2 linked regions of the Homo sapiens genome follow. The protein of the gene in region 1 interacts with the protein of each later gene in a pairwise test. Each region holds a gene or a part of one and is shown on either strand. Other genes may lie near its edges.

Evidence for each region. The genes of interacting proteins can lie anywhere in the genome.
Region 2: the proteins of TTC23 (region 1) and INSC interact in binary tests that used the Homo sapiens proteins (3 or more experiments, as listed by UniProt).

The regions. Positions count from the first base shown.
Region 1 is NC_000015.10:99,237,858-99,246,581, reverse strand, and holds part of TTC23 (tetratricopeptide repeat protein 23), read left to right. Parts: intron 1-1,071; 5' UTR 1,072-1,193; intron 1,194-5,022; 5' UTR 5,023-5,217; intron 5,218-8,724. UniProt on the Homo sapiens protein: Participates positively in the ciliary Hedgehog (Hh) signaling.
Region 2 is NC_000011.10:15,243,245-15,248,754, reverse strand, and holds the end of INSC (protein inscuteable homolog), read right to left. Parts: exon of another isoform or gene 5,015-5,510; intron 2,844-5,014; coding exon 2,715-2,843; 3' UTR 1,547-2,714; downstream 1-1,546. UniProt on the Homo sapiens protein: May function as an adapter linking the Par3 complex to the GPSM1/GPSM2 complex. Involved in spindle orientation during mitosis. May regulate cell proliferation and differentiation in the developing nervous system.

The sequences.
Region 1 (8,724 bases):
GTACAGTGGCTCGATCTCAGCTCACTGCAACCTCTGCCTCCTAGGTTCAAGCGATTCTCCTGCCTCAGCCTCCTGAGTAGCTGGGATTACAGGTGCCCACTACTATGCCCAGCTAATTTTTTGTATTTTTAGTAGAGACAGGGTTTCACCATGTTGGCCAGGCTGGTCTTGAACTCTTGACCTCGTGATTTGCCCACCTCGGCCTCCCAAAGTGCTGGGATTACAGGCGTGAGCCACCACGCCCAGCCCCATGTTACTGATTTTTAATTGTTCTTTATATATTGTGGTTAAAGTCCTTTATCAGATTAATGATTTACAAATATTGTCTCCCATTCTGTGGGTTGTCTTTTAACTTTAATAATAGTGTCTTTTGAAGCAGTAAAGATTTGGATTTGATGAAATCTAATTTATCTTTTTTTTTCTTTTATCACTTATGCTTTTGGTGTTATATCTCAGAAGTCTTTGCCTAACAGGCTGGGCCCTGTGACTCACACCTGTAATCCCAGTATTTTGGGAGGCCAAGTCGGGTGGATCACCTCAGGTCAGGAGCTCGAGAACAGCCTGGCCAACAGGGTGAAACCCCGTCTCTACTAAAATTAGCTGGGCGTGGTGGTAGGCACCTGTAATCCCAGCTGCTTGGGAGGCTGAGTCAGGGAGGCTGAGTCAGGAGAATGTCTTGAACCTGGGAGGTGGAGGTTGCAGTGAGCCGAGATCACGCCACTGCACTCCAGCGAGAGTCTGTCTCAAAAAAAAAAAAAAAAGTTCATGAAGATTTACTCCTATATTTGCAAAGAGTTTTATAGTTTTACCTCTTACTGTTAAGTCTTTACTCCATTTGGAGTTAATTTTTGTATATGGTGTGAGGTGTAGAGATCCAACTTTATTCTTTTCATGTATCTATCCAGTTGTACCAGCACTGTTTATTGTTTATTGAAAAGACTGTTCTCTTCCCATTGAATTATCTTGGCATGCTTGTTAAAAAAAATAATTCACATATATAAGAGTTTATTTTTGGACTCTCAACACTATCCCATTTTTCTATATATTAATTCTTTTTTTTTTTTTTTTGAGATGGAGTCTCGCTCTGTCACCCAGGCTGGAGTATAGTGGTGTGATCTTGGCTCACTGCAACCTCTGCCTCCCAGGTTCAAGCGATTCTCCTGCCTCAGCCTCTCGAGTAGCTGGAATTACAGGTACTTATCACCAAATCTGGCTAAATTTTTTGTATTTCTAGTAGAGACAGCGTTTTGCCATGTTGGCCAGTCTGGTCTCGAACTCCCGACCTCAAGTGATCCGCCCACCTCGGCCTCCCAAAGTGCTGGGATTACAGGCATGAGCCACCACGCCCGGCCTCTATATGTCATTTCTTATGCCAGTACCACCACGTTGTTTTGGGGAGGGCTTTTCCCCAGCTTTATTGAAATATGATTGACAAACTAAAAATTATATACATTTGAGGTAAACATCATGGTGTTTTGATATAAGTGTACCTTTTGTAATGATTCCCACAATAGAGCTAGCTCACACATTCATCACTTGACATAATTACCATTTTTGTGTGTGTGATGAGAACATCTGAGATCTTAACAAATTTCAATTATTTTCTATAGTTACCATGCTGTATATCTCTAGAACTTATTTACCTCATAACTGAAAATTTTTAAGTACAACACTTTTGATTACTTTTACTTTAGTTTTATAGTACATTTTAAAAATGGGAAGTGTGAGTCCTCCAACTTCTTTTTTAAGATTGTTTTATTTATTCTTAGTCTCGTATTTCCATCTTAATTCATCCATAATAAGGATCAACTTGTTAATTTCTGCAAAAAAACAGCTGAGTTTTGATGGATATTACATTAAATCGATACATCAATTTGAGGAGTATTCTATCTTAATATTGAGGCTTTTAATCTATGAACATGGAATGTCCATGTATTTAGATCTTTAATTTCTTTCGATAATGTATGATTTTCATTGTACAAGTCTTGTATTTCTTTTGTTAAATTTATTCCTACATATTTATTCTCTTTATCCTATTTTGAATCAGTGTTTTCTTAATTTTATTTTCAGATTATTTATTGCTGACATATAAAAATACAATTTTATTTATTTATTATGTATCCTATGGCCTTGCCGAACTTATTTAGTCGTTCTAATTGGGGGGGGCGATTTATTTGTTTATTTATTGTGGAATCCTTAGGATTTTCTACATAGAGGGTTATGTCAGCTGATAATAATGTTTTATTTCTCCCTTTCTAATCTTCATGCCTTAATTTATTGTTCTTGCCTGTTGCTCTGACTGTAATATCCACAACTTTGACTACAGGTGGTGAGAGAAATCATTCTTGCCTTGTTTCCAATCTTGGAAAACATTCAAACATGCTCCATTAAGTATGATATTAGCTTTAGGTTTTTGTAAATCAGGATTTTTTGGTTTTGTTTTTTAATTTTTAATTTTTGTGAGTACATAGTAGTAGGTGTATATATTTATGAGATACATGTGATGCTTTGACACAGGCATACAATGTATAGTAATCACATCAGAGTAAGTGGGTATCTGTGTCCTCAAGCACTTATCATTTCTTTGTGTTAGAATTATTCCAATTCTACTCTTTTAGTTATTTTAAAATATACAATAACTTATTGTTGACTGTAGTCACCCTGTTGTGATATCAAGTACTAGATCTTATTCATTCTATCTAACTACGTTTTGTACCCATTAACTATCCCCACTTTTCCCTCCCTGCCCAATACCCTTCCCAGCTTCTGGTAATCATCATTCTACTCTCTGTGTTCATGAGTTCAGTTGTTTTAATTTTTAGCTCTCATAAATGAGTGAGAACATACAAAATTTGTCTCTCTCTGCCTGGTTAATTTCTCTTAGTATAATATCCTTCAGTTTCATCCATGTTGCTGTAAATGACAGGATTTCGTTCTGTTTTGTGTGTATATCTACCACATTTTTTTATCCATTCATGTGTTGATGAACATTTAGGCTGATTCCAAATCTTGGCTGTTGTGGATAGAGCTGCAGTACACATGGGAGTGCAGATATCTCTGATATACTTTTCTTTTGGATATATATGGAGCAGTGGGACTGCTGGATCATATGGTAGTTCTTCTATTTTTAGCTTTTTGAGGAACTTCCATACTGTTCTCCACAGTGGCTGTAATAACTTGCATTCCCACCAACAGTGTATGAGTGTCCCCCTTTGTCCACATCCTCACCAGCATCTGTTACTGCCTTTTTAATAAAAGCCATCTTAACTGGGGTGAGATGACCTCATTGTAGTTTGATTTGCCTTTCTGTGCTGATCAGTGATGTTGAGTATTTTTTCATATACTTGTTGGTTATTTGCATGTCTTTTGAGAAATGTCTATTCAGATCTTTTGCTCACTTTTTAATCAGATTATTAGATTTTTTTTCCTATTGGGTTTTGTTTAAGCTCCTTATATATTCTGGTTATTAATCCCTTGTCAGATGGGTAGTTTACAAATATTTTCTCCCATTCTGTGGGTTGTCTCTTCACTTTGTTGATTGTTTCCTTTGCTATACAGCAGCTTTTTTACTTGATGTGATCCCATTTGTCCATTTTTGTTTTGGTTGCCTGTACTTTTGAGATCTTTCTTAAGAATTCTTTCCCCAGACCACTGTCCCAGAGAGTTTCCCCAGTGTTTTCTCTTGGTAATTTTATAGTTTCAGGTCTTATATTTAAGTCTTTAATCCACTTTGATTTGTAAAATCAGGCTTTTATCAGCCTTTTATCAGGTTGGGGAAGTTTTTTTAATCATGATTGGATAATGGATTTTGCCAAATGTGTTTTCTGCATCTATCAAGATGATCAGATGGTTTGTGACCACATTCTACTGTATAGTGTATTATATTAATGAGTTCAGATGTTAAACCAACCTTCCATTTCTAGGATAAACTCCCCTTGATCATAATGTATTATCCTTTGTATATGTTGCTAGATTTGGTTTGCCAATATTTTGTTGAGGATTTTTGTGTCCATATTCATGAAGGGTATTCATTTGTTATTTTCTTGTGATGTCTTTGTCTGGCTTTGGTATCAGGGTAATACTGACCTCATAGAACAAGTGAGAGTTTCCTTCTCTATCTTCTGTTAGAGTTTTCAAAATACTCATGTTGTTTCTTCTTTAATGGTTTGGTAGAATACATCACTGATGCCATCTGAGCCTGGGCTTAACCTTGTATAAATATTTTTAATTACTAATTTAATTTTTTTACTTGTTATAGATCTATTCAGATTTTCTATTTTTCTGTTATTTTTTTATCACTATTTTTTTGGTATTTTTTATCTTTTTAGAGTGTTTTTCCAGTGCGTTAGCTTACATATGGGTAAGTTTGCTTCTTAACTAGCGTACACTTTCACTAGTTAAGAAACTAGTCATAATGGCTTCTTTTTTTTAACTTTTTTTTTTTTTTTCTGAGACAGGATCTTGTTCTGTCACCCAGGCTGGAGTGCAGTGGTGTGATCTCAGCTCACTGTAGCCTCCGCCTCCTGGGCTCAAGCAGTCCTCTCCCGTCAGCCTCCCAAGTAGCTGGAGAAGCCGAGCGCCACCACACTCGGCTAATTTTTGCAATTTTAGTGGAGACGGGGTTTTGACATGTTGCCCAGCCTGACCTTGAACTCCTCGGCTCAAGCCATCAACCCATCTCAGCCTCCCACAGTGCTGATATTACAGGCATGAGCCACCGTCCCTGATTGATGAGGTTTTTTATTTCCTAAAAGCCACTGCCCTGAGGGCCCCTGCCCCTTCCTCAGGCTCCCCTACATCTCTCCACAAGTCAGCCTCCAACGGTTCACACCTGGAAAAGCAGGGGACCTTCAGAACTGAGCTCCAGCCTAGTTGGCACCTATATAGATTGGTTGGCCCTCCTGCTATTTCAGTTATTATTTTGAACATCACCACTTGGAAGACTGAGACTCCACTTCAGACCTCTTCTTCCTAACACCCTGATCTGGGGCTGATTATGTGCTTTAACATTCTACTGGGCAGGTCTGGCAGAAGGAACAGTATCAACTGACTGAGTAGGTCTCATTGGCAGTTGTGATTCAGAGACCTAGAAAGCTGAACCCACGGCTGGCAAGAAGAGGATGGTTTGTGGGACCTGGGCTGATGTCTGATGAAATTTTAAGCCCCAGCTATAGCTACTACAAAGAAAAGTGGCTGATGATAAGCATGTAACTCAAAGTAAGTGAACTGAGAAGCATGTTTTTTGTTTGTTTGTTTGTTTGTTTGTTTGAGACAGTTTCGCTCTTGTTGCCCAGGGTGGAGTGCAGTGGCACAATCTCGGCTCACTGCAACCTCTGCCTCCCAGGTTCAAGCGATTCTTGTGCCTCAGCCTCCGAGTCGCTGGGATTACCAGGTGTGTGCCACCACACCTGGCTAATTTTTTGTATTAGTAGAGACAGGGTTTCTCCATGTTGGTCAGGCTGGCCTCGAACTCCCGACCTCAGGTGATCTGCCAGCCTTAGCCTCTCAAAGTGGTGGGATTACAGGCATGAGCCCCCGCGCCCTGCCTGAGAAGTATGTTTTTATGTTGAGGATGTTACTGTGTGATGCCACATACATTGAAACACATACATTTAAAGTAAGGCCACAGACTCAAATGCCTCTAGAAGCCAGACAGGTAGCATACCTCCTCCTTTCATTGATTCAGAGACGTACATTTTTTTTGGCATTTGAACATCTCTGAAATTAGAGTGAACGTTACAATTGCAAGTCAAATGGTGTATAAAAAAGCAGCATCTTTATAGTCAGTGGTGCTTTAGATTAGACGAAATAACAGAAAATGAGTGGTGTTGGCCAGGAAAATTATATCCTTCTCTGTTGGCCTTTCACTTTGAAAGAGAGAAATGGATACAGAGACCTACTTTCCTACAATAAGACACAAGAACAATGACAAATGGGAACGACTTTGCTGCCTTCATGTCCGGTAGCCAATAGGGATTGGTGGCAACAGGCAAACTGGAGAGTACCCTTGCCCCCAGGGCAGCTCCCCCTCTTCCCTAGCTGATTATTGCCTGTGGTGGCATAGATCTAGTGTTGACAAGTGTTCTGAGTTTTCAAAGGAAGTCAGAAACCCCAAAATCTACATCTTCATGTGAAACTCCTAATTTTAAAATGATGGCTCAATTTTTTTTAACTGGCGAAAAAAAATATATATATACAAGTTAGATGAGCCTATGAGTGCTCAGAATAAATATAACCTCTCTTTTAAGGATGCAATATTAAGAGGCAGCATGAGACAAACCAGTTTTTACAATTAAGCCAAAAAAGAAAAGTTAAATCCATTTCGAAGTTTAACACTAGGTTCAGAGGCCCAGAATAACAAATACTGCAGGGCCTCTTACTTATTTCATCTTTAAACTTTCTTTTCTGCCTCCCACTAAATGGAAGATAAGAAAATATAGTTAAATCTATTGAAGATGTTGCATTCCTGTTTATAAAAATGTATGATCACTTTTTAAAATGCAGGCTTAGGTTTCCAAAGCAACAGCATTTGCTTCCCACTGCTGTAGACTGTGGTCAGTGAAAGGCAGGATGATGTCATGGGAAACCCCCAAATTATGAGAAGACCAGGGTGCTAATTCTGGCTGTGTGATGTGCAACTGATTTAGGTTCATTTCATCGTCTTTATTTATAAAATGGGGATGATAATAGCTACCCTCTGTACCTTACATGGTTGTAAGGGCCACATGAGATAAAACATGTGAAAGTATAAAGTGTTATGTATATATTAGTTGGTATTGCCCAAATCACATGGGTAGTTGGGACAGCACAGGTTCTTGAATCTCAGATTCTCCATCTCTGGCTACTGCTCTTTCCCTAGACTGCAGCACCTGTTGAAATGGTCATCTTATCAGCCAGTGGGGTTGAACAGATGAGGAAGCATAAGGCAAGAAGTTATTAGAAAAAAGTTAGCCAACATCTTAGGATCTCAAATAGCACTGTGTCTCTGTACAACAGGGTGTAGGCAAAGCTTTCCTGTTAAATCTGAAGTATTGACCTTTAACGTTTTTATTTATTTATTTTTATTTGTTTATTTTTTATTTATTTTTATTTTTTTTGAGACAGAGTCTCACTCTATCACCCAGGCTGGAGTGCAATGGTGTGGTCTCGGCTCACTGCAACCTCCACCTCCCTGGTTCAAGTGATTCTCCTGCCTCAGCCTCCAGAGTAGCTGGGACTACAGGCACATGCCACCACACTGGGCTAATTTTTGTATTTTTAGTAGAGATGGGTTTTCACTGTGTTGGCCAGGGTGGTCTTGAACTCCTGACCTTGTGATCTGCATGCCTCGACCTCCCACAGTGCTGCTGGGATTACGGGCGTGAGCCACCATGCCCAGCCGACCTTTAACATTTTTAGGAGGTACCCAGGAATGAGAACACCACCTACATTGTAGATCAGCCTCTCTAGCATTCTCACAGTTTGACCTTTGGCTGATTCCTTCTTTCTCTTTTTCATATTTTTGTGCTATATAAGCTTTATGAGGAAATGAGTCAATCAAACTCTTAGCCTGAAATGAATGAATGCCTTCTTAGCCTGAAATCCAGCATTTTACTTTCCCCCTAGCTCAGGGTTTCCCAAACAATGTTTTTAAAGTGCTATTTCCATAAGATTTAATAGGTGCTCAAGAAAAAAGATAATCTCATGGTCAAAAAAAGACTGGAAAAGTGCTGTATACTGTACCCACTCTGGGATATTCACAAGGTATTATATTAAAGTTTTGAGAAGACCTGTTTACCCATTTATTTGATCACAGAATCCTCCTTTTGTGGAACCAATATTTGTGTTTACCAACTCATTTGATCACCTCTGTCAATAACCCTCCTCAATGGCATGTACGTTAATGTCTTGTGGCTCTGGTGTACTGCAGCAATTGGCTTGGAAAATGCTGTTCTATAGCCTCATTTCACATACACCAAATTGAACCACCAGCAGTTAGCCATGCATGTATTTCACTTTCCCACTTCCAAGCCTTTTGTAATTATTCACTCTGCTTGGGATGCTTTCTCTTCTCCCTTCTTGTTGTCTGGAGTCTTTTTAGCCAAACAAGCAAGGTCATTGCAGCAGCAATGATTCCCATTTCTGAAGTCTTAGCACTTGCCACTCTTCTAGCAATTTTAGCACCTAGTACTGTGCTAATGTGTACCTGATCTTTTTTCCTGCTCCATTTTACATTTCTTGGGGTTATTGTTTTCTGCGTAATACATTAGCCTGGTGCATTGTTTGTAGCCAGAATTCAGTAAATAGTTGTGGAATGAATAACTAAATGAGTTGTGGCCAGGTGCAGTGGCTCATGCCTGTAATCCAGCACTTTGGGAGGCCGAGGTGGGCTGATCACTTGAGGTCAGGAGTTCAAGACCAACCTGGCCAACATGGTGAAACCCCATCTCTACTGAAAGAAAAAAAAAAATTAGCCAGGCATGGTGGTGCATGCCTGTAATCCCAGCTCCTTGGGAGGCGGAGGCAGGAGAATCGCTTGAACCTGGAAGGCGGAGGTTGCAGTGAGCCGAGATCGTGCCACTGTACTCCAGCCTGGGTGACAGAGTGAGACTCCGTCTCAAAAAATAATAATAATAAAAAATAAATAAACAAGTTGCAATAGGATGAAATTTAAAATGTTATCTATAGTAGATAATGGAATTGGAGTTTGAAGAGGAGGAATGGGGAGGGATCTCTGAAAGCCTG
Region 2 (5,510 bases), on another chromosome or scaffold:
AATAAAGGTTGCAGTGTAGAAATTTTCAACATTATATATTATCTGAAGAGCTACTCTCCTTTAATCTCTTCCAGTTCTGTGATATTAGCGACCAACTAGCCTGATATTGAGGAATGGGCAGAACTTTGACCCTGAATGCAAAAGGCTGCGATTTAGTCTTCATTCTGTATGCTTTGGGGAAAAATCATTTGCTTCCCCTCAACACCGGCCTCAGTTTCCTCACCATAAAATTAGTATTAAACTAGATCAGTGATTCTCAAAGTAGGGCCCCTGATCTCTGGGGAGTCCTAAGACACATTCAGGAGCTCTGTGAGGTCGAAACTATTTTTATAAAAATACTAAGAAGTTATTTACCTTTCTCCACTTATTGACATTTGCACTAATGGTGCAAAAGCAATGGTAAGTAAAATTGCACCTTAATATGATCAAGGCAGTGGCACCAAATTGTACTTACAGTTATTGTATTCTTCACTGCCACACACTTAAATTTTTAAAATGCCAATTCCACTTAGGAATATCCTTGATGAAGCAGTAAAAATTATTAAGTGTATTAAATTCTGACCCCTGGTACATGCCATTTTAACTATTCTGAGTGATATGAGAACTGCATTTCAGGCACTTCTACTGTATGCCAAAGCAGAATGCGTGTCAGTTTCAAGAGAAAGGCACTTATGTGATTGTTTCAATTGCAGTATCAACTAGTTGCTTTTTCTGTGGAACACTACCTTTACTTGAAAGAACAATTGACAAACTGTGGTTATTGAGACTGAGGAGTTTGGCAGATATTTTCTCAAAAATGAACAAAGCGAGTCCGTCTCTTCAAGGGAAACAGCTGACAGTATTTGTTGCCAATGACAAAATTTATGCTTTCAAGCTTGATAGTTTCCCAATATTTAAAAACTTTTCAGATGAGATCATAATGATATTAACAAAAGTTGTCTGTTGATATCATATAATGAAAGTTGCCAATATCTGAACAATCTGCACAACTCAGTGAAATATATATATATATATATATATACCTTATTTCTAAAAATGGAAGCTTTGTATAAGGACTCAGAAGACCTTGGTTTGAATCCAAGGTCTGCCATTTTCTTGCTACTTCAGCTCCATTGTTGTATCTGTAAAATGAGTTTCCTCTGTTTCTTCTCTGTAAAATGGGTATGTAGTAGTAAATGTTAATATCTATACTGAGAATAATATAAAACAAGTCCATGGCACCTGGTTAATGTTGCACAAGTGTTTTCTATCGTAATAATAATAATCATCATCACATTAGGTGGGAGGACCTAGACATTACCTTTGTATATAGCATATGACTTCAGCACAAAGGCTTTGGTAATAGCTATTGCCAGAATCAAATCCTAGCACCACTTACTAGCTACTGACCTTGTGCAAGTAATTTAATAACCTGATCATATGTAATAACATATATGAATATACTAATTAATACTCATGTGATTATTGTGAGGAATAAATTGGATAATGCAAATTAGATGCTTAGCCCAGGACTTGGTTCATTAGGTTAACTCATGTAAACTAGTAATTGGGAATTTAAGAAATGTTTATTGAAACATTATTATAATCATGATTTTACACAATTATATTATATTGTATAAATTATATCACAATATGATGGCATTTATATTTTCAAAAGGATCCCCAGATTTTTGTGATACTTTCAAGCAGTGAAATTGGTAAACCAGCTCTCTCTAAAAAAAAAAAAAGCGAAAGCTGTGCTTTATAGCATCTGTGAATTTCTGTGGTGTAAATACTCCCACTATGGCCAATTTCAACATGAGGGCTCATGAAGTAGCTCATGGCTACCAACGCAAGGTCACTGAGTGCAGAGTTAGGAAGAAATTCTCACAGTTGTCCCTTGTGAGTGGGCATGAGCTGGCTTCAGCACACCACTGCTTTCAAGTATACTTTTGAGGAGGAATCAATCATTCAATAAGCCTCATCTGAGGATTCTATTCACCAGGAGGTGAACAGGAGGTTACACAAAAGCAAAGAAGCCAAAGGAAGCAGGGTTTCTGGTGCCTTTGGGTGTATTTTTGAAAGTCACTTTGGTTTCTCACTAAGTCACTCAGAACTTAACCTATTTATACACCTATGAAAACAAGACAATTCTGTGTGTACTTTTAATGGTTGGAAAAGTTTTTGGGGAATGAAACCTGGGAAGCAAGAACCTAGTTTAAAATACAATTTAATAAGAAAATCCGGGATACATTTTATATGATTCCATTTATTAAAGAAAAAGAAACTTCTTTCCAATATATTCTACCCAATTATTAAATTCATTTTAGATTTTTGGGAAGAGCAAATCCAACTTAAAAAAAAAACTTGCTAGGCAGTTGAAATCCTCTGGTTCCAAAGTTTTAAAAAATGAGGCAAGATTGTATAGTGAGAGTAGAAAAAATAAGATGAAGTGGAATCACCCATGACAATTTGTCATATTTGTCATTACGAATTTCAACATCTGCAACTGAAAAGCTACAGAAATCAAAAAATAAAACACAAAGAAGATTCTCAAGGACCAAAGACTGTTTGATGATGTTGCTCTAAGATTTTGTCCTCCATTTATTTCACACAAAAATAAGTTAAGTATAAATAAGAAGATGAGGAGAGCTGGTATGTACTCAGATGTGTTCACTGGTGCATAGTCAGAGGGGGTGTGAGAACAGCCAAATGTATTTCTTCGCCCACACTCACTACACAAAACTCTCCTCCATGTTGCTGCAGAGTAAGAAGGAGTCCACCAGCCGAGGCTGGACCAACTGCTGAAAGTCAGAGTCCTGGAGGCCTTCAGGGCAGACCCCAGCCAATCTACGCAGAGCAGCCTGGGGAGAAGACAGAAGAGGTGACACGTGTCAGACTGGGCCATGTCAGGTACATGTATTTCCTTCACCTACCCTGAAATGTGCATTTCAGAAAGTGGTGCATTTACCAGACAATTTGGGTTGATCATCATGTTAGCCACTTGGCATCTCAGTCACCATCTTGGTCACCTGGTCAACATAGCAACCACATCTCTTGGTCAGCTAGCTTTATTTGCACCTTGATCACTAAGATAGATGTCATCTGAAAGCTGTTAATAATCTTAATAATGGTCTTTATTATTTCCAGATCCCTAGAGTAACCTTAGAACAGCAAGAACTATTCATTCATCCATAAATTCAGCAAGGTGCTATAGAAAGCACTATGGAAAAAAGAGGAAAAGAGAGGGAGAACATATTGTAAAAGTAGACAGGGATTCTGCTACTGAGAAATTCAACACCTGGCAAGGGGGATGAACAGGAAAGAGAGGTGCTGGCAGAATAAAATCACTCCCCAGCTCCCCACACAATGAGCAATGAGTATGCTATTTCTATTTTGTGTCCATGTGTCCTTGCTCATATTCTTAATCTTCAGCCCAATGCTCTACCTCTGAGCTATACCCCCTCCTCCTTGCTCATACTCTTACTTGTGACTTGAAGTGACTTCCTGCTCCTGCCTATTGTCACCTCCCCCATGAAGGCTTCCCCAATTATCCTGAAGCAGAGACAGTCCATCCCTCCCTCCCCTGTGCAACCAGGGCCCCTGGGCTGACCTCAAGCTTCTCACACTTGGCCATAACTAGCTTTTAGGTATTTATCTCCCACACTAGACTCTGAGCTCCTCGAGAGTAAGGATCTTGTTTTCTATTTCTCTGTATCTATAGCAGACAACACAGAGGTTGGCACAGGGCTCAATAAATGTTGGCTGAAAAGAAATGAATAAACGAAGTGCTTTAATATTGAGATCTGCTGATAGAGCAACCTGAAACTAAATGTGAGCTGTGCACCTACCTAGACCTGTTTACCAGTTAACTGAGACAATGCATGCTAAGTGCTTGATAAATATTAATTTCTTCCCTCTTCCTGAGCATATACACAGCAGGGAACAAGGTGCCCCTCCTCTCCCACCCCTGGAAGCAAAAAGAGTGGGGGAATATCTAGAATGGCAAAAGAAGCAAAGAAGGAGGGAATGCAAACACTGAGAATCTCCCCATAGCACCTCACTTAATCCCTACATGATGCTGCAAGCTAAGTGTCATGATCTCCCTTTTGGAAATAAGGAAACTAGGGCTCAGAGGGGGAAAGTGGCCTTCCAGACATCACACAGGAGTCTGACTCCAGGGCACTCAGACCTATGCACACAGGTAGGATGCTGCAACCCCAGGATACAAGGTTATATTGAGCACAAGGCAGGGGTACCACTCATTACCTGGACATGGCAGGTAGCCTGTTGCTGAGAAATCAGGCCAACAAAGTGAAAAGAGAGGATAGTTTGAGCTGGTTGCTGGGAGTCACAGGTGCTGTCATGTCCAGGCCAGGTCAAAGAGAAGGAGCGTGTGTCTCTGTGCATTAATGAGCAGGGTCTGTGACCCTAGCAACAGGAAGTAGACTCCCCAGAACTGCCTCTAACACACACATCTCGACTCTCATGGGGCGTGGTTTACCCCATAGACTAACAAGGGTAAACTTCACAGCACTTTCTGATTCTTCTTGGCTCCAACTGGGAAAGATAACCCCATTTTCCCTGAGTTGTCACCATGAAAACAGAACCAGGGATTTTCTGAAGATGAGGAAACAAGGCCACCAATGCATTTTTGCATCATTAGGGATAAAAATAAAGCAAGAAGGGAGACAAGGAGACAGAGCGAAATAGAACATAGACCTATCAAGAGAGCAAATAAGACAGAAAAGGGAAATAGCCAAGAAACAGAGAAAAAGAGACAACAGAGAAAAAAGAACAAGAAGGAAATATTAAAACAGACAGAGATGAACTTGGTGAAGAAAAAAGACCAAGTATAAAAAAGAGATGGAGGAAAAAAAAAAAAGAAATAGTGGCAAAGAAAATAAAAGAGAGAGCCCTTAGGGGGAGGGGAGATAATAGGAGAGAGGTAGGGTGAGGTAAGGAGGCAGAGAGAAAAAGGAAGGAGTAGAGAAGGAGAGAAAGGAGTTATGGTGATAAAAAGAGGGGAAGAAGGGAAAGAAGAAAGAGAAACTGCTAAGAGAGAAGGCAAACCCTAGAAAGAGAGCAAAGCAGAAACCAAAACACAACAGAGAGCGGCAGAGAGAGAAGAGACACCCTTACCTCCCCAGGGCCCCCAGAAAGTCTACAGGACATGAACCCTACAGTAGCTCAGAGCACCCCCTCCTCAGTGTGCAGCAGCCTCAAAGGACCCTGCACCCTTGCCAACCCTTCTCTCAGCCTCTGCTTCTCTGGGAGGGTTAAACAGCTAGTCATCCTAGAATCTCATTCCCAGACAGCCTGAAAACACCCAAGCATTAAACAAGCCTGGCAACCTACTGACAGCTGCTTCATTCAGGAAAAATCCATTCTTTTTGGGAGAGATGATCTGCACTGCCACTTTCCCAGACAGGGGAGACAATAAGTGAAACTTCCTCCCTCTACCTGAAGGGAGCCTTTGAAGCTGGGAAACGCCTTGGGGAAGAGCAGGAATGGTGGCTTCTAACTCCATC